Regions from separate parts of the Homo sapiens genome. Here regions 2 and 3 are each linked to region 1. The links come from fine-mapping of genetic effects on gene expression. A gene starts in region 1. Each other region holds a variant in brackets. All regions are shown on one strand. Distances are from middle to middle. Region 1 holds the start of PTOV1 (PTOV1 extended AT-hook containing adaptor protein). Region 2 overlaps TSKS (testis specific serine kinase substrate). Region 3 holds the start of FUZ (fuzzy planar cell polarity protein).

Evidence for each region. PIP is the estimated chance that this variant, and not a neighbour inherited with it, causes the effect.
Region 2: its variant is fine-mapped to the expression of PTOV1 in subcutaneous fat (FUSION, PIP 0.95).
Region 3: its variant is fine-mapped to the expression of PTOV1 in whole blood (TOPMed, PIP above 0.99).

What each region holds. Positions count from the first base shown.
Region 1 is chr19:49,846,659-49,854,832 of GRCh38, forward strand. PTOV1 (PTOV1 extended AT-hook containing adaptor protein) reads left to right here and starts at 4,501. Exons shown (of 12, transcript NM_001394010.1): 1 at 4,501-4,841; 2 at 7,748-7,885; 3 at 7,994-8,076; 4 at 8,173-8,174. The coding sequence starts at 4,671. It overlaps PTOV1-AS1 (PTOV1 antisense RNA 1), which reads right to left and starts at 5,018. Exons shown (of 4, transcript NR_040037.1): 1 at 4,910-5,018; 2 at 65-95. It overlaps MIR4749 (microRNA 4749), which reads left to right and starts at 7,933; the gene lies at 7,933-7,993. RefSeq lists enhancers at 2,319-2,398, 4,200-4,309, 7,281-7,340 and silencers at 3,890-3,969, 4,410-4,699.
Region 2 is chr19:49,738,237-49,746,410 of GRCh38, forward strand. TSKS (testis specific serine kinase substrate) reads right to left here. Exons shown (of 11, transcript NM_021733.2): 7 at 6,966-7,160; 8 at 5,995-6,168; 9 at 3,649-3,784; 10 at 1,823-1,947; 11 at 1,524-1,696. The coding sequence ends at 1,540. Among named protein-coding and RNA genes, the nearest start is that of TSKS, 21 kb to the right of the region's middle. RefSeq lists enhancers at 3,036-3,330, 7,932-8,174. The variant G/T (reference allele first, on the strand shown) is at 4,869.
Region 3 is chr19:49,812,468-49,820,641 of GRCh38, forward strand. FUZ (fuzzy planar cell polarity protein) reads right to left here and starts at 825. Exons shown (of 11, transcript NM_025129.5): 1 at 529-825; 2 at 148-269. The coding sequence starts at 639. It overlaps MED25 (mediator complex subunit 25), which reads left to right and starts at 5,822. Exons shown (of 18, transcript NM_030973.4): 1 at 5,822-6,008; 2 at 6,104-6,149; 3 at 6,705-6,829. The coding sequence starts at 5,875. RefSeq lists enhancers at 696-1,502, 889-1,128, 1,339-1,388, 5,381-5,740 and silencers at 5,778-5,944, 5,871-6,030. The variant C/T (reference allele first, on the strand shown) is at 3,401.

The DNA.
Region 1 (8,174 bases):
TGTTGAAACTACAGGTGTGAGCCTCTGCGTCTGGACACACACGATGATGACAAAGTTGAAATACCTAGAGTTTGCAAAGCATGTATCAGGCAGACCTTTAAAAAAAAAATCAGCCATAAACTATTTTGTAATTGCAAAGAAAGAAAAGAAAAATCCAAGCCAGAGATGATCTTACTCCCATTTCTTAGCATAAAGCATTTTATTATCTTTTTTATTTGTTTGTTTTGAGACGGAGTCTCACACTGTTACCTGGGCTGGAGTGCAGTGGCACAATCTCAGCTCAATGCAACCTCCGCCTCCTGGGTTCAAGTGATTCTCCTGCCTCAGCTTCCCAAGTAGCTGGGATTACAGGCACCCACTACCATGCCCAGCTAATTTTTTGTATTTTTAGTACAGACATGGTTTCACCATGTTGGCCAGGCTGGTCTTGAACTCCTGACCTCATGATTTGCCCGCCTCAGCCTCCCAAAGTGCTGGGATTACAGGTGTGAGCCACCGCACCCAGCCTATTAGCATTTTTTGAGACAGAATGTCGCTCTGTCGCCCAGATTGGAGTGCAGCTCACTGCAACCTCCGCCTCCCCGGGTTTAAGCAATTCTCCTGCTTGAATTGGAGGATCAATCAGGAGACTGTATTTGTATTCCTGAGTAGCTGGGATTGCAGGCGCCTGCCACCACGTCTGGCTAATTTTTGTATTTTTAGTAGAGATGGGGTTTCACCAGGTTGGCCAGGCTGGTCTCCTGACAACAGGTGATCCACCTGCCTCAGCCTCCCAAAGTGCTAGGATTACAGGCATGAGCCACCGTGCCCGGCCAGTATAAAACACTTTGTCCATGTTGTCATTGTGTCCTAGCCTATGTCATCCAACCTATATGTACTGCCAGTTTGTTCTTCTAGGAAACTCAGACTTGGTAGTTGATTGGTTTAACAAATGTTGGTTAAACTGGGATTATTTGGGAAAAAAAAATTGTGTATATCAGGAAAGGCCAGATTACCCCCAGATTGCAGTGGCTTGAAACAGCCAAGGTGGATTTTGTCACTCGTGCTGTATTGAGTGTCAGCTTGGAGCCCGTGCGGACAGATCATGAAGGTTGCCAATGGACATAGTAAAGGCAGAGGGGTCTGGTCTTCCATTAGCAATTATGTGCTCTTGCTGAATTCACATGTGTCACTTCTGCTCATATCTCATTGGCCAGATGTAATCACATGGCCTCACACCTTACTGGCCAAAATTAATCACATGGCCGCACTCAAGCTAAATGGGGTCAAATGCTGGCCAAGTGTGGAGCTAGAAATATATGGCAAATAGCACTAACGGCCATCTTAACACTTTAAACATCTTATTTTAACCAAGAACATTTAAACAGACATCTCTTGTACGTAGGACCAAGACCCTTTCTTTCAGTATTGGTCTCCTAGTTAGCACACGACATTACATTCTTGTTTTTGAGACAGGGTCTCACTTTGTCACTTGGACTGAAGTGCAGTGGTGTGAACACGGCTCACTACAGCCTCAATCTCCTGGACTCAAGAGATCCTCCCACCTCAGCCTCCTGAGTAGCTGGGACCACAGGTGCATGCCACCATGCCTAGAAAATTATTGTTGTTTTTGTAGAGGTGGGAGTCTCACTGTGTTGCCCAGGCTGGTCTCGAGCTCCTGGGCTCAAGCAATCTTCCCACCTCAGCCTCCCAATGTGTTGGGATTACGGGCATGAGCCACTGCGCCCAGTAGAACATCACATTCTTGTATAAGCTCCACCCACAAACCACAATGAGTCATTTTTTTAAGTGGCTTGAGAACCTAAAGACATTTATGAAACAAACTGGGGGCTGAGTCTTCCTAGGTTTTTATAAGCTTTTTCATTAAATAATTTACAGTTGCTTTACTTGTACCTAACTTGGCAGCATTTTTTTTTTTTTAAGAGATGGAGTCTTGCTTTGTTGCTCAGGCTGGAGTTGCAGTGGTGAGATCTCAGCTCACTGCAACCTCCACCCCCTGGGTTCAATCGATTCTCCTGCCTTAGCCTCCAGAGTAGCTGGGACTACAGGCATACACCACCATGCCCGGTTAACTTTTGTATTTTTAGTGGAGACGGTGTTTCACCATGTTGGCCAGACTGGTCTTGAACTCCTGACCTGAAGTGATCTGCCCACCTCGGCTTCCCAAAGTGCAGAATTACAGGTGTGAGCCACCACGCCTGGCATGTTTTTCTTTTAACAACTCCCTTTTAGTCTTTCCAAAGCAAGCAATCTGGTTTGTGTATAAACAACTGTCTTGCATTAATTTCATTAGTTTGATAGTAAATTAAACAAGAACTTCTGGCATAAACAGGTTTGGATCAAACAGCTACCTTTCAGGAAGTAAACAGCTTGAGAGATGGAAGTGGAATTGCTTAGTCATAATAGTAGCCTGCTAGCCCCAGCAGTGGGCTTCACAGATGAAAAGGAAAGTGTCTTTCAAGTTGGTGGACCGAGTTAAGTGAGATGGTTTCAGAGAGTTTTGTTGCAGTATTACTGATAGAATTTCAGCCTACATTTTCATTTCACTTTCTGACATGAGTTCCCATTTTGCTCACTCTGGAGTACACCCTGGTATACCGCTCTCCATGCTTATACAATTCAGGGCATTCAAACTCACGTGTGTCCTGATGGGTTCTGAGGGATGGGAAGGCATTAACAGGTAGAGAACAGGAAGGATGGGAGAGAGATTTTTTGGGGGGCGGCAGCAGGGGCCACAGTACCAAGTTTGGATTTAATTCTAAAGGCACTGGGAAGCCATTGGATGGTTTTGATTATTGTAGTGACAGAGAAGGCAGCAAGAGTTAGGAGACGTCACCCAGGCAAGAGATCTTGATGGTTTGGACCAACAAGAATGGGGAGAAGTGAGGATTCCGGGAGATTAAAGCAGCTCCTGTTTTTTCTCCTTCCTGCTGCCAGGTTGTCCTCACATGGGTGATTGACAGGGCATTGGAGGTACCTGTTGATAACTAACTTGCAGTTTGTGTTCAGGGAGCACTGACTCCGTTTGGCCACAATGCAGGTTGGATTTGGGGTTTAAGGCTGGGCTCCAGTCAGCCCTCGGGAGCCCCTGGGCAGGAAAACATGGACAGGCCTACGGGTTCTTCTGCCATTTCACTGGCCACTCCTCCGTGTCCTTTGCTGGTTGCTTCTCATTGTCGTGACTGCTAAAGGGATGAGTGTCCCAGTCTCTTTGTGAGCTCATCCAGTCTCCATTCAAACACTGATGACTCCCGAATTTCTCTCTCCAGGCTATGACATCAATATCTATCTACATTGTTTAGTCAACATCCGAAACAGAAGTAGGGACTCCGTCTCTAACCTCCTACAGCTGTGTCTATTTCTCCTCTCTACCTTCACTCGACTCCGCCCACACTGGCTCCCTTTTATTCCTTCTACTTTCAGGATTTGTCTTTGCTGTTCTGTCCTCTTTGCACACTTTTCCAGCCATCTGGAATGGCAGGTTGCTCACAGGTCGTTTTCTTGACTTCCCTTGCTTGCTAACTTTACCTCGCTATGGTCATATCCCATCGCCCTGTGGATGTGCGCTAGTTAACACTTAGCACAGCCTGTGATTATGTCTCTCCCCAGTGGACCGTGGGGCCTGTGAGGGACGTGGTCTGATTCGGTCGTCGCCGAGCACAGAACTGGACAGGGTACTCATAACAGATTTTTGTTGTTGTTTTTAAAGAAAAGCTAACATTTGAGTAGTGACTGCGCCAAGCAGTCAAGCACAGCCCCTCGGGCTCGATCCCCATAACCACTCTAGGGTTAGGTATTACCCACGTTTAAGGAACAAAAATCGAGGGAAAAATCTTATACAACTACTAGTAAGTAGTCATTCCATTTTAGCAGAGCGAATGAGCGAATCCACGGAAGGCCGGGGAGCGACGTGAGTGGCGAGAAGCTTGGAGTCGCCAGGGACGGCGGGCGGAGCCTGGGCGCCGGGGCTAATGGGCGGAGCCTCCAGGGACAGCTGGCCCCGCCCAGGCCGCGCGGGGCCCGCTGGGAGTTGGAGTCCCTTGCCCACCTCGCCACGTCACCGACTGCAAACCTTCAGCTGTCTCAGGCTCGGGTGCAATCCGTACCCTCAGTGGGTTCCCTTTCAGTGGGTTCCTTTGTCCCCAGGCCCATTATTCCGTCCTCCCCTCTTCCCTGATGTATTTTGGCGCGGTCTCCTGGCTCTGCGGGCCCAGGGCTCCGGATGAGGTCTCCCGCCGTCCCGACCCCCGCAAGGGGCCAGCTTGGTGTCGCCTTCGTTCTTCTGCCACCCCATTCGGTAGGGGCTCCCGTTCCCGCCACGCCCCCTGAAGTTGTGGCTCGCGCGTCTTCCCAGGACTCCCCCGCGCCGGAGAGGCCCGCAGGACCGCCGAGCCCACACTCCGCTCCCGCCCGGGCCCCGCTCCCCCGCGCCGCCTTGGTACGCTCCGGCCACGCCCCCTCGGACGCGCTTGGTACGCGCCGGGCTCCCCCGCTCGCCTCAGTGGTTCGGCCGCGGCGACCCCACTCCGGCGGCGCGTCCCCCGAGCTTGGTACGGCTCAGCCCGTCTCCCCCGAAGCCGCGCGCCCGCGCCCGCGCCCCTCAGTCGGTGGAGCCCGCAGCCCCCCTTGTGGCCCGCGGCAGCTCCCCGCCCGCTCGGCCCGCGCCCGCCATGGTCCGTCCGCGCCGTGCCCCGTACCGCTCCGGCGCCGGGGGCCCCCTCGGGGGTCGCGGCCGCCCTCCGCGGCCCCTCGTGGTGCGCGCCGTCCGCTCGCGCTCCTGGCCTGCCAGCCCCCGAGGCCCGCAGCCTCCGCGGATCCGGGCCCGCTCGGCCCCTCCCATGGTGAGCCCCCCGCCCTTTTTCCAGAGCCTTCCACGGCCCCGCCCCCCCAGCCCCTATCCCGGGCTCACGCCTTTGTCCGCAGCCCCCGCCGCTCCGGGGTGTCCCCTGTGGCCCGAAGGGTGGTCCCGCCCGGGGCCGGGTTCCCCCGTGGAGCACCCGGTGGTTCGCGCCGCGCTCTCCCCTTTGTTGCGCGTTCGGGCCGGGGTGGGGGGTTGGGGGACGGGGGCGGGGCGGGCTCATATTACTGCTGACTCCGCGGCCCGATTTAAACGCGGGCTGGGGGCGGCAGACAGGCAGCCGGCACGCTCGCTTGTTTTTCCTATTGGAGAGTTGCTCGCTCTCCGGGCAGGAAACCTGGAAATGGGGGCGGTTTTGGGGGACAGCGGCGAGGGAGGGGCCCGCGCTTTGTACCAGCGCCCCCAGATGTCGCACCCGTGGGCGTTCTCCCCTGGCGGCCGCTCCGTGCCCGTGGAGTGCGCACCTAGAATACGCGCCCGCGCCCACATGTGGGATGCTTTGATGGACTGCCGTGAGCCCAGACCTTAAACGTAAACATTCAGCTTCGCAGGTACTTTGGGCTGCACACGCTTCTCCGGACCCAAAAGATGCACATGCTTTTCAGAAACCGTAAGGTTTACCTGGGGCTGTAAAACCGCACATCGCGACTTTGCACCGTGCACACGCTTGCCCCGATGTGAGATTTCCCCTGGGTTCGCGCTCGGGTCCGCTTCTTAAATACACTGCCTCAGCGGTGTGGATGGCACAGAGCTGTGGCAGCCCTACTGAAACCTTAAACAGGCTTCCTGGGGTCATAAACATGGATACCGAGACTTAGATCACCTCCCACAACTTAAACGTACCCCTTCACTCCACTGCCTTCGCCCCTTCCTGCAGCATTCGCATCTAGTTGTTCAAAAGTGCTTTCCGGGTCCTCAGACATGCACCCCAAGGTTTTAAACCTCAGTGCAAGTACTAGATGGGCTTCCCTGTGCAATAGGGATGTCAGGCGCGCAGTTTTGCACACGATTGCCAAGATGTGAGATTTACTTTAGGTTGCACCTTAACCGTCGTTTTTAAATATGATCGTCCCATCTTGATGTGCTGCTCCTGCTGTGGAAGGTATCCCTGGGTTTTAGGCAAGCATATGTGTTCTTTACTATGGCTCCAGATCCCAGCATATTTGAAGTCCTGAGTCAACCTGCTCTCCTAGACAAGCAGACATTAAGTATGTCGCTTGGGCTCTTAAGTGCGTTCTCCTGACTTTTACCCATCTTTGTGGCAGTAAATGCATACGTGTCACTGTATATGCGGACTAGATACCTCAGGTCCCAGCGCCATAAACAACTTGTATGTTGTAAGTGTACCCTCATCTCGAAAGTCACCTCCAGCTGTGCGTTTTAACTCATCTCAGATGCTGGATGTCCGGTATGGTGCCTGAAGCCCCCGGGGCAACATCCACTCTCTGTCCAACTCATTCTAACGCCAAGATACTCAGGTTTTCTATCTGATCTTCTGACGACTGCCCAAAAGTCAGAATCACCTGCGTGGGTGAAGAATCACCTGCGTGGGTGGAGAATCACCTGCGTGGGTGGAGAGCAAGTTTGTTCAGGTTTTTCTCTTTTTAAGCACTCACAAAATAAAATTTTTTGTGTTTGCTAGTATTCTGGAAGGAAAGATCTCCTTGTGCTTCATAGAAAATTTGGAAAATACCTGTTTGTAATAAGATAAAAATAAATCACCCTTATAATTTGTTTTCCCCCGCCTGGAGGCGCCTATTACGGGGAAACTCTCGTGGGTTTCCTGCTGCCAGGCTGTTTGCGGAGCTTTCCCTTGTTTGCTTTGAGATGTTTTTGGTTTTAAAAAACAATAAGTGAGGTCAGGCTTGGTGGCCCTCGTCTGTAATCCCAGCACTTTGGGAGGCCGAGGCGGGCGGATCACTTGAGGTCAGGAGTTCGAGACCAGTCTGGCCAACATGGTGAAACCCCATCTCTACTAAAAAAAAAAAAAAAAAAAAAATTAGCCGGGCATGATGGCGCGGCTTGCAGTGAGCGAGGTTGCAGTGAGCTGAGATCGCACCACTGCACTCCAGTCTGGGAAATGAGTGAAACTCTGTCTCAAAAAAAAAATAGTAATAAAAATAGTGGGGAGAGTGCCTGTGAGTAGCATTTGTGGCGTTGCTTGGCTTTATTGCTAGAACTTTCTCTTGGTGTTCTACATGTTTTGGTCTGTGAGACCCCTCTGGGGGTGGTGTCCCAGCTGTCTTCCAAATGTTTCCCCCTTTTCCTCGCTGTCTTTCTCCTGGATGGTTTAGTCCCCTCTGTGTTTCTTGTCATCTCCTTCCTGCCTCCCCCCGGGGTCAGACTTATAAGGCCAGAGAGGTGGGCACTGGCCTGAGCCAGAGGAAGGAATTGAACTTTGGGATGACAGGGAGCTTTAGGAGAGTTTCAGCCTGGGAAAGACAGGGCAAGCTGGTGTGTGGGACAGACACAGCGCAAGCCGGCTTGTGCCTGTGGAGGCTGCAAGGAAGCCCTGGGCCCAGCCTGGGGCACGGGGAAAGCCCCCTACAGCTGGCTTCTAACTTGGGTCTCAAGAATCGATCAGGCGCACAGCTGGGGCAAAGGCTGGAGGTGGGGCTGGCTGAAGGCTTCAGGACTCTGCTGGGCCAGTGTCAAGGTGACAGCAGGCTCTGGGAAGGAAGGGTCCTGAGGGTGGGCAGCGGGAAAGGACATGAGGACCAGCGTGTGGGGGTCCTGAGGGGTGAGCAGAGGGTTTGGACATGGCCCCGTGGGCTTCCAGCAGGGGATTTGGGGCTGAATATTGGGACGTCCCCTCTGGGGTGTGTGGGGACTGCCTGTCCTTGCAGGCCCCGGCCTCAGTTTTCCCACCTATCCCCCACTCCATTGCAGGAAGGTGCTCGGGTCTTCGGGGCACTGGGTCCCATCGGTCCCTCCTCACCTGGGCTCACCCTCGGGGGTCTGGCCGTGAGCGAGCACCGGCTCAGCAACAAGCTGCTGGCTTGGAGCGGCGTCCTCGAGTGGCAGGAGGTGAGTCTCTGTGGGGCTGCGGCTGGCCTCCAGGGTCTTGTCTTGTCCCTGCGGGGACAGGCCAGGGCATCTAGGCTGTGCACAGTGACGCCCCTCCTGCCCCCACAGAAGCGCAGACCCTACTCTGACTCCACTGCAAAGCTGAAGCGGACCCTGCCCTGCCAAGCCTACGTGAACCAAGGCGAGAACCTGTGAGTGCCGGGGCGTGGCAGCCAGGGCGGTGGCAGGGGCAGTGGCTGTGGCCGTGGGGATCAGGGCAGCCCTTTCTGACCAGCTCCTTCCCATAGGG
Region 2 (8,174 bases), 110 kb before region 1:
GGGTTTCACCATGTTGGCTAGGCTGGTCTCAAACTCCTAACCTCCAGTGATCTGCCTGCCTTGGCCTCCCAAAGTGTCGGGATTACAGGCATGAGCCACTGTGCCCGGCCTATTGCCTCATTTTCACCTGAAGAAATTGGCTATTCTGCCAGACACAGAGGGTATTTCCAGGTATATTCTGTCTGTTAGAGAGGGTATTTTTACTTTGAGGAACTGCCAATTCCCTATTCTGTCTTTTATGGAGGGAAATATCATAACTCTGTGCTTTCCCTCTGAGCTCAGAGGTGTACTGGCGGGGGAGGGGTATTAAATCTATGGGTGAAAAGCCCTGGGTATAAAAAAAAACATTGTCCGGCTGGGCACAGTGGCTCATGCCTGTAATCCAGCACTTTGGGAGGCCAAGGCAGGAGGATCCCTTGAGTCTAGGAGTTCCAAACAAGCCTGGGCAACATAGTGAGACACTGTCTCAATTTTTCAATGTTTTTTTTTTGTTGTTTGTGTTTTTTGTTTTTTTTTTTTGAGACGGAGTCTCACTGTCACCCAGTCTGGAGTACAATGGCGCGATCTCAGCTCACTGCAACCTCTGCCTCCCGGGTTCAAGCGATTCTTGTGCCTCAGCCTCCCGAGTAGCTGGGACTACAGGTGTGTGCCTGGCTAATTTTTGTATTTTTAATAGAGACAGGGTTTCACCATGTTGGCCAGGCTGGCCTCAAACTGCTGGTCTCAAGTGATCCACTCGCCTCAGCCTCCCAAAGTGCTGGGATTATGGGTGTGAGCCACCGCCTCTGGTCCTGGCTGACATCTTGACTCTAACTTCATGAGGATCTCAGCCAGGACCTAACCCCAGGAGTGAGGTTAACTGATTGTATTTCTGACCTTCAGAAGTTGAGATACATTTGTTATCTTAAGCAACTAACTTATGGGGTATTTTTACACAACAATAGACAACTAATATAGTTATCTAGTAATAATCAGCCTAAAAAATGTTGACTTGACAGACCTATACTATACCACAGAACCTTGTTTCTACCACCATTGCCATCTCAAAGAACTGTACCACCACCAGCACCTCTGTGGGGACCACGACATCCTGTTTGCTGAAAATTAAATAAATCACAGTGGGCTGGGTGTGGTGGTTCACACCTGTAATCCTAGCACTTTGGGAGGCCAAGGCAGACAGATTGCCTGAGCTCAGGAGTTTGAGACCAGCCTGGGCAACATGGGGAAACCTTGTTTCTACTGAAAATACAAAAACTTAGCCAGGCATGATGGTGTGCGAATGTAATCCCAGCTACTCGGGAGGCTGAGACAGGAGAATTGCTTGAACCCAGGATGTGGAGGTTGCAGTGAGCCGAGATCACACGCACTTCAGCCTGGACGACAGAGTGAGAATCTGTCTCAAAAAGAATAATAAAGTTAATTAATTAATTAAAATAAATAAATCACATTGGGCATAGAGGGAGTGCATGGTGTGTGTGCAATTCACTAGGACTCTGGTCCCAAAAAGCAGACAGAATTCATGCTAGCATGAGAGGCCATTTATTGTTCAGGGGCTGAGCCCCCCTGTTTTGGGGGGGTTCCTGCACTGCTGCCTCCCCCCATTGTTCCCGTGGACCCCTCAAGTGGCAGGTTGCTGAGATGATCGTGGAGGGAGCACATCTTCAAGTGTAGATGGTCCAGAGTGGCCATCTTCTCCCTGTCATGAGGCAGCGGGGAGTTGATGGCGGCATGGCTAGGTGCTGGGGTGTTGGAGTGGAAGGGGAGATCAGGCCCTTTCCCCAAGATCTCACCCTCCTCCCATGCCCTCAGCCTCCTTCCTCACTCTGGCTTCATCTTGTCTGTCAGCAGTAGGTTCTTGGCCCGCAGGGCCTCGTCTTGGGCCAGCCGAAGGGTGGAGCTCAGGGCCTCTGCCCTGACGTGTTTGGCTAAGGCCTGGCGCTCCAGCTCCTGGGGAGAGGAGCGTAGGCGTAGCTGGGCTTGCTGGACTGGGCTGGGGGTGGAGGGGGAACTGGATTGCGGAGGGCAAAGGGTAGGGTCCCATGGGGCCCACATTTCTCCCTCAGAGTTTCCCATCATGCCTTGAGCTTGAGACTGACCCCAGCATCCCACAATGCACTGGTCTCCAGATTCCGCTGTGGACTAAATCTGTGTCTGTCCTATTGTCTGTCCCATGATGCACTGACCTATGTCCCAGCAAGCACTAAATCAGTGCCTATCGTCTGTCTCCTAAGCTCATGAACTATCCTACATTTGATATGTGTGTGCACCCCAGTATTCTACCACATGGTGACCTCCTACATTCCATAATTTGGAAGACCCCACATCTCCTTATCCATTAGACCAGCACCTCTCACACAAAAGTCCTGGCCGGGCGCAGTGGCTCACGCCTGTAATCCCAGCACTTTGGGAGGTCGACACGGGTGGATCACTTAAGGTCAAGAGTTCGAGACCAGCCTGGCCAACAGGGTGAAACCCCATCTCTACTAAAACTACAAATATTAGCTGGGCGTGGTGGTGTATGCCTGTAATCCTGGCTGCTCAGGAGGCTGAGACACGAGAATCGTTTGAACCTGGGAGGTGGAGGTTGCAACGAGCCAAGATGGCGCCACTGCACTCCAGCCTGGAGCAACAGAGCGAGACTCTGTCTCCAAAAAAAAAAAGGCCGGGCGCAGTGGCTCACGCCTGTAATCCCAGTACTTTGGGAGGCTGAGGCAGGCGGATCACGAGATCAGGAGATCGAGATCATCCTGACTAACACGGTGAAACCCTGTCTCCACTGAAAACACAAAAAATTAGCCAGGTATGGTGGCAGGCGCCTGTAGTCCCAGCTACTTGGGAGGCTGAGGCAGGAGAATAGCGTGAACCCAGGAGGCAGAGCTTGCAGTGAGCCGAGATTGCGCCACTGCACTCCAGCCTGGGCGACAGAGCGAGACTCCATCTCAAAACAAACAAACAAACAAACAAAAAACAGTCCTTAGTGCCCTGGTTCTCTACGTACAACTGCACCAAGCCCCATTTCCTCTCATGTATTAGTCCTATAGCTCGGCCACATCAATGTCCCACAGTGCCTCACTTGTCTGTCTCACCCACTACAACATAATCCTATAGTACATTAGGTCAATATCCCATAATACAGTGCACTAGGGCTCAAGTTCCACCAACTATTGGGCTGAGTGTGTTGTGCAATGCCCCAGGAAGAGCTGTGGTTCCATTTCCCATAACGCATCAGCTAACTGGGGCCTACAGTCACTGGGTCTCCTATTTTACCTCAATATAGCTGACCCCAATGATCTTGTACAATGCACCGCCTCTCTAAAAGTTTAGAGAAAATCAGGCCTATGTTCCATGAAGCTTTAGACTGGTGTCTGTCTCGTGTCCCACAATGCACTAGATCCAACGTCCTATCATGCTTTAGGCCCAAGTCCATCTTCCGAGGTAGCGTAATGATTGGCCTGTGACTCACTCACCACCAAACTGCTTGTCCATCTCCCCATGCATTAGGGCCAAGTCCTCCCCCAGTGCCTGCTGCTCCCAGCTCAGCCCTTCCCCTTCTGCCACACACCAGCAGTACCCTTGAGTCCGGGGTTCCCCTCCCCTTGCCCCAACAGAAAAGTAAAGTGGGACATGGTGGCCCATATTCCCTGGTACCAGAATCTTCTTGTGTAGCCTCTGACAGCTGGGACAGGCAGGAGTCAGGCCCCTCTGCTTCACCTCGTCCACTAGTGAGGTCAGTGCTCGGTCCAGCAGCTGCTGCAGGGACTCCGTAGACAACTGCGACCCCTGGCTGGGGGAGGGGCGGTCACCAGATAAAGAGGCCCAGTACCAACTCCAGGACGCCCCATGCCCCATGCTCACCTGTGGAGCCTCCATTTGGCCTCGTTTCCAGTATGCACCCTATGCAACCTTCCCAGCATGCACTGTGCACCAGCTGTCCCTTGGTTTCCATGGTGCTCTGGGGATCACTACTCCTTTTTTTTTTGAGACGGAGTCTGGCTCTGTTACCCAGGCTGGAGTGCAGTGGCGCAATCTTGGCTCACTGCAACCTTCACCTACCGGGTTCAAACAATTCTCCTGCGTCAGCCTCCCAAGTAGTTGGGACTACAGGCATGTGCCGCCACATCCGGCTAATTTTTGTATTTTTAGTAGAGACGGGGTTTCACCATGTTGGCCAGGATGGTCTTGATCTCCTGACCTCGTGATCTGCCCACCTCGGCCTCCCAAAGTGCTGGGATTACAGGCATGAGCCACCGGGCCCGGCCCTTTTTTTTTTTTTTTTTTTTGAGATGGAGTCTCGCTCTGTCACCCAGGCTGGAGTGCAGTGGCACCATCTTGGCTCACTGCAACCTCTGCCTCCTGAGTTCAGCGATTCTCCTGCCTCAGCCTCCTGAGTAGCAGGTATTACAGGCACCCGCCAGCACGCCTAGCTAATTTTTGTGTTTTTAGTAGATATGGGGTTTCACCATGTTGGCCAGGCCGGTCTTAAACTCCTGACCTCCGGTGATCCTCCCACTTGGCCTCCCAAAGTGCTGGGATTACAGGCGTAAGCCACCACGCCCAGCCAGAGTCACTATTCCTAAGGGCACCAGACAGCCCTCAGTTTGCAAAGGCCGTCAAGAACTAACATTTCCCATAATACACTAGTGAAACTCGATTTCATGTTGTACTGTGAGTCCCCCTTTCCTACAATGGACCTTCCCACAATGGGCCAAAAATGGTGTATCCCTCGGCTCTCACAATACACCAAGGTCTCACTTCCCCCTCAGTGCACTGAAACCCTGCCTCTCCTCATGTTCACATCCCAGCCTTCCCACAATGCACTGGAAATATGATGCTTAAAATGTACTAAGTGTTTTTTTTTTTTTGAGATG[G/T]AGTCTTGCTGTCGCCCAGGCTGGAGTGAAATGGCACGATCTTGGCTCACTGCACCCTCCACTTCCCAGGTTCAAGAGATTCTTTGGCCTCAGCCTCCCAAGTAGCTGGGATTACAGGTGCTCACCACCACACCCAGCTAATTTTTGTATTTTTAGTAGAGATGGGGTCTCACCATGTTGGCCAGGCTGGTCTCAAACTCCCGACCTCAGTGATCTGCCCGTCTTGGCCTCCCAAAGTGCTGGGATAACAGGTGTGAGCCACTGCGTCCACCCTTTTTATTTTATTTTTATTTTATTGAGACACAGTTTCACTCTACCTACTAGGCTGGAGTGCAGTAGCGTGATCTCGGCTCACTGCAACCTCCGCCTCCCGGGTCCAAGTGAATTTCTTTTTTTTTTTTTTTTTTTTTTGAGATGGAGTCTCACTCTGTCTCCCAGGCTGGAGTGCAGTGGCATGATCTCAGCTCACTGCAAGCTCCACCTCCCGGATTTACGCCATTCTCCTGCCTCAGCCTTCCTAGTAGCTGGGACTACAGGCACCCGCCACCACGCCCAGCTAATTTTTTTTTGTATTTTTAGTAGAGACGGTGTTTCACCATGTTAGCCAGGATGCTCTTGATCTCCTGACCTTGTGATCTGCCTGCCTTGGCCTCCCAAAGTGCTGGGATTACAGGCATGAGCCACCGCGCCCAGCCTGGTCCAAGTGAATTTCATGCCCCAACTTCCTGAGTAGCTGGGATTACAGGCACGCGCCACCACGCCCAGCTAATTTTTGTATTTTTAGTAGATACGGGGTTTCACCACGTTGGCCAGGCTAGTCTCGAACTCCTGACACCAAGTGATCCGCCCACCTTGGTCTCCCGAAGTGCTGGGATTACAGGCGAGAGCCACCGCGCCCGGCCTGTACCAAGTTTCTCTTGAGTTCCACAAGACACTGATTCTACCTTGTAGAGTGGGAACAAATGAGGCTTCTAGTGCAGCAGGACCGGCTGTTTCTACAATGCACTGGGATACCTTGTCTCCCAAAATGAACAGCGCCCCACCCTTCACTAATGTCCCATCTCCTTCCGCATCTCCTTTAATGTCCTATCCACAAGGCTCCCAGAGGCAAGCCCAGCCCCGTTACCTGGCACAGCGGGCACAGTTGCCTTGGTGGGACCGATCCAGGTTCATGGAGAGGTCAGGCCCTCTTCGAGAGTTCTGAAATTGCCGCCCGAACTCCTCCAGAATGGGTTTCAGTGGGCCCAGCCCCTCCAGTTCGCTCCTCAGTGAAGCCACAGACACTGCTGACCGCTCCACCCTGAGGCATGAGTAACCAGTGCTGCTGGGTCGTCTCTTCAGCGGTATAACCCTGGCAAGACTCCACCCATTATTAGCCCACCACTTGCGTCTCCATCTGGTCAGCAATTCTCCACCCTGCCCTCCCCTCTCTGCTCTGACTGGCCTCACTTTTTGTATTTTACTTTATGTTATGTTATTTATCTGTTGACTATTTTGAGCCAGGGTCTGGCTCTGTGGCCCAGGCTGGAGTGCAGCAGCACCATCATAGCTCTCTGAAGCTTTGAACTCCTGGGCTCAAGCGATCACTCCTGCCTCAGCCTCCCGAGTGGCTAGGACTACCAGGGTGCGACACCACACCACTCCCAGCTAATTTTTAAATTGTTTGTAGAGATGGGGTCTCCGCTATGTGGCCCAGGCTTGTCTTGCACTCCTGGCCTCAAGTAATCCGCCCACGTCGGCCTCCCAATGTGCTGGGATTATAGATGTGAGCCACCTCACTGGGCCACCTTTTGTAGATTACTGTTTGGAATGCCCCTCCTAGTTCTCTTAATTGATTTTCTCGGATCCCACTTGACCCCACCCTTTGCCCTTTTAAGGTATAGACCACACCCCTTCTCTAATTGATTCCACCCCTCAGGCCTTATTAGGGCTGATGCAACCCTTCCTGCTCTCTAATTGGTGTTTCCCGATGTCGGTATATGTTCCGGAATGCCTGGCCATAGCTGATTGGCCTACCCATTTCCCTCAAGACCCCGCCCTCAGGTTGGGATTGCCCTGCCCCTTCCGGTCTTCCCATGCACTGGCCCCAATCCTCACATGGTGCACAGCTCATCCGCCCGACCTCGCAGCTCCTGCAAGTCCCGCGCCGTCTGTGCCTGTTCGCGCTGTGCCCGCTCCCACTGGCCTAGGAAGCCGTCGACCCTGCCGCCCAGGCCCCCGAGCAGCCGCAGGGCTTCCTGCACCGCCCCCTCCTCCTGATGCCACCGGGCGGTCAGTGAGGACACCTCTCTCCTGGAGGGGCAGAGGAGGGGAATGGGTAGGGGCTAGGCTTCAACAGGTCCCCACCTACCCCCACGAGATAGGTGGGACAGGACTCACCTATCTCGCCCCACTGAGACCATGCCCGTGGCTCCAGACCCACCCAGGTCACCAAATTTTATTGCACCCTCCATTTGGTGAAATTTGGTCGTGTCCTCCAGAGCCCCGCCTTTATCCCCTTCCTTTATTGGCTATCTTGGCCCTTTCCTGGTCAGGTCCCCAACCTCTACCTGGGCTCCTCCAGACACTGGCCCCCCAAGGCACTGCCCACCCTACTCTGCCCCACGTGGTGCCTCCAGGACCACTCCTCTCCTAAGCCCCGCCCACCTCAGTTTCACCAGGCCTGGACCTGCCTCCCAGCAGCCCAGAACTAAAAAGTTCCTTATTCTGTCCCTCCCTTGCTCAGGTCACTGCCTTCGGGGCACTCCCTCCTCTGCTCTTGGAGACCCCAGCCTTGTCGCCTTCCGGTTAAGATCTAGGCCGGGCGCGGTGGCTCACGCCTGTAATCCTAGCACTTTGGGAGGCCGAGGCGGGCGGATCACGAGGCCAGGAGATCGAGGCCATCCTGGCTAACACGGTGAAACCCCGTCTCTACTAAAAATACAAAAAAATAGCCAGGCGTGGTGGCGGGCGCCTGTAGTCCCAGCTATTGGGGAGGCTGAAGCAGGAGAATGGCGTGAACCCGGGAGGCGGAGCTTGCAGTGAGCCAAGACGGCGCCACTGCACTCCAGCCTGGGCGACAAGCGAGACTCCGCCTCAAAAAAAACAAAACAAAACAAAAAACGATCTTTGAGGAACCTCCCCTGTGTCCCCGCCCACCGCAGCTCCTGGAGACTCCTCCCGTGTCTCTACCCACCTTCGTTCCTCGAGGCTCCTCCCATGTTCCCGCCCACCTCAGGTCCCCGAGGCTCCACCCATGTCACCGCCCACCTCAGCTACTTGAGAACCCCCGTCCCTTGGGTCCCGCCCACCGCATCTCCTCGAGGC
Region 3 (8,174 bases), 34 kb before region 1:
TCAGGGATCAAAGAGGGTAACTGGCTTGCTAAAGATCCCATAGCCAAATTAACAGCTGCTTTTAGAGAGCTGGAAGGCCTCCGGGGTCATCTTCAACAGGGACTATCACCCAGGCCCTGTCCCTGTCCCACGTTCCCTCCTGGGGACCTGTCATGGAAGCTTTTCCACACCACAGTCGTGTTCTCGGTCCTCGCAGAGCTCAGCTGCACCTCCAGATTCTGCCCAAACATGTGGACTCCATTGAGGGAACCGATGACAGAGAACGGGAGCTAAGGAGGGGTTAGGGACATCAGACAAGAGCACCCCCCCATCCCCTTCCCCCTTAGGACCCAAGTGTGCCAGCTCCCAGCCCCATCCTCTTTCCATATGACCTGGCAGTGCCTCTTTGGGGAACCAGGCTTATTGGTCCATTGCCTCCTCGGTCCTACAAATTCAACACTGAAACTTCCCCAGCCCCTACTGCCTTGAAGACCCAGAGTCAAAACACCGAACCCCCTTCGGTTTAGATACAGGCGTCCAAGGCCCCACCTGCTGACGGGCGGGGGCGCCGCCGCGACTGCTCCTGCAGAATAGGGGGACCCCGCTGGAGGCCGCGAGGCACAGCAGATGCACAGTGCCGCCCGTCCCCTCCTCCCCCATTTAGGACTCCCACCGCGGTCCCTCACGTGGGGACTGTCAGTGCGGGTCTTGGAGCATGGCGGTAATCAGAGTAACTCGGCCTGTGGTCCGGAGCCGCCAGAGGGCGAGATGGGGAGCTGATTGGAAGAGGATTAACTTCCCGCCTTCTTCACCCAACTCAAACAGACCCTCAAACCCTATTCAGGCACCTCCCCCAAACCCATTAGGTTCTCTTCCGCCCTAGCCGGAAGTCACGGTACCCCTAACAAAGATGGCGGCAAATTGAATTTGCAAAGCTTTCTAGTTTCTCCGAGGAGGTAAAGAGAACCAAGAAGCCGGATTGAAGATGATGACTGCGCCAAGGCGTTGCCTAGCCACCATCCTGTAGGCTTTGATGATTTACATTCTAAACGGAAAAAACAGCTGTGCCCGGATCAAAGATTGCGATGGTCCCAAAGCATTGCCTAGCAACCACATTCCCTGTAGGTTTCCAGTATATAGTAGTAAACAATGTGCCCTACTCAAAGATGGCGACCGTGGCGGGGCGTTGCCAAGCAACCACCATTCAGCCTGATATCCATTCCAAGGCTGTAAACAGCTGTGCCCTGCTCAAAGATGGCGGCACGTCGAAGTCCGAGCACCCTCCTTGGGGCGAAATCGAGAAAAACACCATCTCCCCTACAACCTTCGAGGGTGGTTGAGTCCAGCGATCGTTGCCTAGTAACCACTAAAAAAAAGGTTGTTTTTGTTATTAGAAAAAAGAAAACAAGGAAATCCTTTATTTTCCAGAATAATAAAAATAATATCATTTCTGTAATGAATTTATACATGATAGCATACCATGTAAAATGTGAAAAATCCCTTCCCCAATTTTTTTCCTAAAATACAGTTTAACGTAGACTATTCATACGTTTTCACAAAGATGATCAATATACTAACATTTCCACACTTTCTTTTTTGCCATGAAAAAGTATGTCTATTTCATCTTAATAATGTATTTTTATAATCTATTTTATGGATGTGACAAATTGATTTGACCAATTCTGTATTGATGTACATTAGGTTGTTGAACTCCTCCAGACTAGCCAACTAGTGCTGGGACAGCATTTTACTGACTTTTTAAAATGCCCTTATGAATATTTTTATTATTTTACACAGGCAGCATTTACTTGTAATGACAAAAGTATTTATGATTCATTTTTCCCTTCCTCTTCCTTCTTGCAGATCAGCCCATCTTTCTAGCATAATTTTTAATTTTCCTACTTCCTAAAGTACATCTTTTTCTCTTTTTTTTTTTTTTGGGAGAGGGGACAGGGTCTCGTTCTGTCGCCCAAGGTGGAGTGCAGTGGAACCATCTCGGCTAACTGCAACCTCCGCCTCCAGGATTCAAGCGATTCTCCTGCCTCAGCCTCCTGAGTAGCTGGGATTACAGGTGTGCCCCCACCACGTCCAGCTAATTTTTGTAGTTTTTGTGGAGACAGGGTGTCGCCATGTTGCCCAAGCTGGTCTCAAACTCTTTGGCTCAAATGATCCACCCACCTCAGCCTCTCAAAGTGCTGGGACTACAGGCAGGAGCCACCATGCCTGGCCTAGGTACCATTTTAATCTTCCTTCTTGCCTATTGATATTTTTTTTCCTTTCTCTGGATTACTTTTATCTTCCTTACAACTTTATTAAAATGTTAGTTACACAGGCATAAAAGAGGGGGCTGCTCTAGATGAAAAGAAACTTGAGACATAATGTCTAAATATGTGTGTGGTCTTTGTTTGGATCCTGATACAAATAAACCAACTGTAAAAACACATTTTGAGACAATTGGAACGTTTGATTACACACTTACTGTTGGATGATACTAAGAAGTTAATTTTGTTACAGGTAACAATGGCATACTAGTAATGTAAGAAAGTGTTCATAAAATTGGAAAGATGCCTGCCAAGCACACAGGAGTAAAATCATATGATTGTATGGATTTGAAGGCTTCAGCAGGCCAGGCGCGGCGGCTTACGCCTGTAATCCCAGCACTTTGGGAGGCCAAGGTGGGCGGGTCACCTGAGGTCTGGAGTTCGAGACCAGCCTGACCAACATGGAGAAACCCCGGCTCTACTAAAAATACAAAATTAGCTGGGCGTGGTGGCGCATGCCTGTAAACTCAGCTACTCGGGAGGCTGAGGCAGGATAATCGCTTGAACCCAGGAGGTGGAGGCTGCCGTGAGCCGAGACTGTGCCATTGCACTGCAGCCTGGGCAACAAGAACAAAACTCCATCTCAAAAAAAAAAAAAAAAAAAAAGCTTCAGCAAATGAGACTGTCTCAAAAAAAAAAGGGCTTCCGCAGGCTCACTGCCTATAATCCGGGCACTCTAGGAGGCCAAAACGGGTGGATCACCTGAGGTCAGGAGTTTGAGACCAGCCTGGCCAACATGGTAAAACCCTGTCTCTAACAAAAATACAAAAATTTGCCTGCGAGGTGGCACACACCTGTAGTCCCAGCTACTGGGGAGGCAGAGGCAGGAGAATCGGTGGAACCAGGGAGGCAGAGGCTGCAGCGAGCCGACACTGCGCCACTGCACTCCAGTCTGGGCGACAGAGCGAGATTTTGTCAAAAAAAAAATAATAAAATAAAAAAAAATAAAAATAAAAATAAAAGATAAAAGAAAAATAGAAACCCAATAAAAAATAATTTTAAATGATAAAGGTAAAAACCTTTATCATTAGGCTTTCTGTAAGTACTTTTCAATTGGTGATTATTATTATTATTATTACTTTTTTTTTTTTGAGACAGCG[C/T]CTCGCTCCGTCCCCCAGGCTGGAGTGCAGTGGCGCGATCTCTGTTCACTGCAAGCTCCGCCTTCCGGGTTCACGCCATTCTCCTGCCTCAGCCTCCGGAGTAGCTGGGACTACAGGCGCCCGCCACCACGCCCCGCTAATTTTTTTTTTTTTTTTTTTGGATTTTCAGTAGAGACGGGGTTTCACCGTGTTAGCAAGGATGGTCTCGATCTCCTGACCTCGTGATCTGCCCGCCTTGGCCTCCCAAAGTGCTGGGATTGCAAGCATGAGCCACTGCGCCCGGCCTGTTTTTTTTGTTTTTTTTGTTTTTTTTTTGAGACAGTCTCGCTCTGTCGCCCAGGCTGGAGTGCAGTGGCGTGATCTCGGCTCACTGCAACCTCTGCCTCCCGGGTTCAAGCGATTCTCCTTGCCTCAGCCTCTCGAGTTGCTGGGATTACAGGTGGGCACCACGACGCCCAGTGATACTGACCTCGTGATGCGCCCGCCTCTACCTCCCAAAGTGCTGGAATTACAGGCATGAGCCATCTCGCCCGGCCGAAGATTATGTTTTAAAATATTTACTGGCCATTCAAAATTTTGTGTGTGTGTTTGTGTGAAACTAGTCAGGTTTCTTTTTATTTATTTATTTTTATTTTTTTTGAGACGGAGTCTAACTCTGCCGCCCAGGCTGGAATGCAGTGGCACAATCTCAGTTGACTGCAACCTCCGCCTCCCGGGTTCAGGAGAATCTCCTGACTCAGCCTCCCAAGTAGCTGGGATTACAGACGCCCACCAGGACGGCTAATTTTTTTATTTTTAGTAGTTAGAAGGAGTTTCACCATGTTGGCCAGGCTGGTCTTGAACCCCTTACCTCGGGTGATCTGCCCGCCTTGGCCTCCCAAAGTGCTGGGATTACAAGCGTGAGCCACGGCGTCCGGCCCTGGTCAGGTTTCTTTCTATTAAAACAAATATAAAGTGGCAGGGCACGATGGCTAACACCTGGGATCGCTTTAGCCGAGGAGTTTGAGACACGCCAGAGCAACACAGTGAGACCCCATCTCTACAAAAAATTTAAAAATTAGCTGGAAGTGGTAGTGCGCGGCTGTGGTCCCAGCTGCTCCACAGGCTGAAGAGTGGCTCCAGTGCGAGTAGAGGCTGCCGTGAGCCAAGATTGGGCCACTGCACTTCAACCTGCACAACAGAAAGAGACCCTGCCTCAAAAAATAAAAATTAAAATTAAAAGATAATAGTAATGAAGTGTTTCTATTTTTCTATATTGTTATTCATCAGTAAGATTTATTTGCGTAGTACATTTCTGTCAACAAACACGCTAGAAAGATTTTCCCAGTTGGCCGTATATTTTTCAACTTGGTTTATACAGTCTTTTGGGAAAAATTAATGAAGACTACGTTTTCTAACTTTGCTGTAGTGCTAAGAAACTCCATGGCAGTCATTAAGATTTTTTCCCTTCAGATAGTTTTCGGGTTTCATTTGTTGCACTTACATTTTTAATCCACCTGGAATGTATTTACGTTCTAAGCCAGTTTCTGGCTCCTCTCCCAGAAAACAACGCTCAGGTGTTGCTTAGCAACCCGCACTTGGTTTGGTGTTCGGCTTCTTTTCGGGGGGGAAAACAACTGCCCTCCCTTCCAAGTTGAGGACGACCTTAAAGCGTCGCCTAGTAACCTCGTTTCCGCCGATGTGATTGGATCCTTCTCGCGTCCCTCCCCTAGTCCCCACGCCCGAAAGAACAGAACCAGAAACTTAATCTAACGGTTACAAAACAAGGGCAGCGGGCCCGGCGCGGTGGCTCACGCCTGTAATCTCAGCACTTTGGGAAGCCAAGGCGGGCGAATCACTTGAGGTCAGGAGTTCGAGAACAGCCTGGCCCACAGGGTGAAACTCTTTCTCTACTAAAAATACAAAAATTAGCGGGGCGTGGTTGCGGGCACCTGTAATCCCAGCTACTCGGGAGGCTGAGGCAGGAGAATCGCTTGAACCCGGGAAGCGGAGGTTGTAGTGAGCCGAGATCGCGCCACTGCACTCCAGCCTGGGCGACAGGGCGAGACTCCCGTTTCGAAAAAACAAACAAACAAAAAACAAAACACAAAAACGAAAACAAGGGCAGCGTACGCGTTGCATAGCAACCAGGTCTCCTGCCCCTCCCTTTGAGACAAGAGGCGGACCTGGACGCCCCGCTCAAAGATGGCGGCTGACTGAGCCGCTTTCAATTTATTTAGCTTTTGACAATAATTCCGTCTAACCCATCAGGCCCCTAGAAGGGCTAACTATGCCCTTTCTGAGTCTTCCACGCGGTGGGGGCGAAGGAGGATGGAGCTAGAACGAAGCCTCAGCGCGTGCCCCGCACAAACATGGCAGCATTCCCAGCAGCCCTAAACCGCCCGACGCGAGCGCGCGCGCGGCGCAGGCGCATTTCTGCTCATTCCGCGGCGTCGGCTGCGGCTGCAGTGGTGGTGGCGGGTACCGCACGGGGTATGGTCCCCGGGTCCGAGGGCCCGGCCCGCGCCGGGAGCGTGGTGGCCGACGTGGTGTTTGTGATTGAGGGTACGGCCAACCTGGGACCCTACTTCGAGGGGCTCCGCAAGCACTACCTGCTCCCGGCCATCGAGTGAGTGCTGTTTCCGCGACTCTAACCCCGCCCTCCCACTTCAGTTTCGCACAGTTTCTTGCCTGACTCCGACCTTTCACTTCCTACCCTCACAGGTATTTTAATGGTGGTCCTCCTGCTGAGACGGACTTCGGGGGAGACGTGAGTCTAGGGACTCCTGGGCCTGAGGGAGGAGGGGCCGGGGGCCTGGACTCCTGGGTCTGAGGGAGGGAGAAAGGGCTGGGCCTGGACTCCTGAGTTTGAGGGAGGAGGGGCTGGGGGTCTGGACTCCTTGTTCTGAGGGAGGAGGGCCTGGGGGCCTGGACTCCTGGGTCTGAGGGTGGAGGCGCTGGGGCCCGGATTCCTGGGTCCGAGGGAGGAGGGAGCTAGGGGCCCAGATCCCTGGGTCTGAGGGAGGAAGGGCTGGGCGTCTGGACTGCTGGGTCTGAGAAAGGAGGAGCTGAGGCCTGGATTCCTGGGTCTGAGGGAGGAGGTGCTGGGGCCTGGGCTCCTGGGTCTGAGGGAGGAGGGGCCGGGGGCCTGGATTCCTGGGTCTGAGGGAGAAGGGGCTGGGGCCGAGATTGCTGGGTCTGAGGAAGGAGGAAGCTGAGGAGTTCCTGGTTCTGGAGGAACGGGAAGCTGGGAGCCCTGATTCCTTCTCTAAGGGAAAAGGGAATTGAGGTCCCAGATTAAAAGTTTTCTGTCCTCCCCTCCCAGTATGGGGGGACCCAGTACAGCCTCGTGGTGTTCAACACAGTGGACTGCGCTCCCGAGTCCTACGTACAATGTCACGCTCCCACCAGCAGCGCCTATGAGTTTGTCACCTGGCTCGATGGCATTAAGTGAGCTTTCCCCCACTTGGGGTGGGTTGCTGGTCCCTGTGAGGGGCCGTGAATGAGTGATGGCTTGGGGTGGTTGGTGTCCCCGTGAGAGGCTGTGAATAAGTGATGGCTTGGGGTGGTTGGTGTCCCCGTGAGGGGCTGTGAATAAGTAATGGCTTGGGGTGGTTGGGGTCCCTGCGAGGGGCCGTGAATGAGCGATGGCTTGGGTTTGAGCTGCAGGAAACATCTCATACATTAAGGGATTGAAAGGACTTTGAGGGTGATTGTGTTTTTGTCAGAAGTCACTTTTGTGGTGGCTTCTGTGTGCTCAGCAATGTTGCCATCAGTTTAGAAGTAGGAAAAACCTTCCCATTCAGGGAGGCCTGGCTGAGCTCCAGCAGCCACCTTGTACTCCCTGTGTGATTGTCCCCTTTCTGTCCTCTCTTTTTCCGTCTACCCCTGTCCTCCTTTTCCAGATGGGTACATTGTAGCCTCAGTGCAGGGGGATGGGTCAGAGCCAGGATAGATCCCTCTGTGGCTTGGGTCAGAATTTTTTTTTTTTTTTTTGAAACAGTGTCTTGCTCTGTCTCCCAGGCTTGTAGTGCAGTGGCACAGTCGTGGCTCACTGCAACCTGTACCTCCTGGGTTGAAGCGATTCTTCTGCCTCAGCCTCCCAAGTAGCTGGGATTACAGGCACACGCCACTATGCCCAGCTAATTTTTTTTTTTTTTTTTGTATTTTTAGTAGAGACAGTTTCACTGTGTTGGCCAGGCTGGTCTCAAACTCCTGACCTCATGTGATCTGCCTGCCTCAGCCTCCCAAAGTGCTGGGATTATAGGGGTGAGCCACTGTTGCGGGATTCAGGACGACAGGAGAGAGCCCTCGGGTTAAAGCAGGAGAATCTTTCATTGAGTGCACTCAGGCCCAAGCCGACTCACGTCCAAAGACGGCCCAGAACAAAGGTAGCACTTGACTTTTATACACACTTCACAAAAGGGGGTGGGCTAGCTTGAAGCAAGCTTACAGTGGCGTGACAGCAGGGATACAGAGGCAGAACAAAAACAGTTAATCAAATTGTTGTAACAGGTTTATAACTCAGGATTGCACATAACCGTTGCTATGCAACCCAGATGTCCCTTATCTAGGTTAGCCTAGGCACGGGCTTATCCCATAACCTTCACTGTGGTGCCCAGGCAGCTCAGGCTTCTCATGACCTTCGCTGTACTTCTTAGATAAAACAGAATACTTGAAGTCATGAGTTACAGAGAACAGGAATCTATAAACTCATTCCATAAAACAAAGGAAAATTTGTTTTTTCTTCTCTCTATGTTGAGGGAGTGCTGGGAGAGTCTCCAAGAGCACTTTA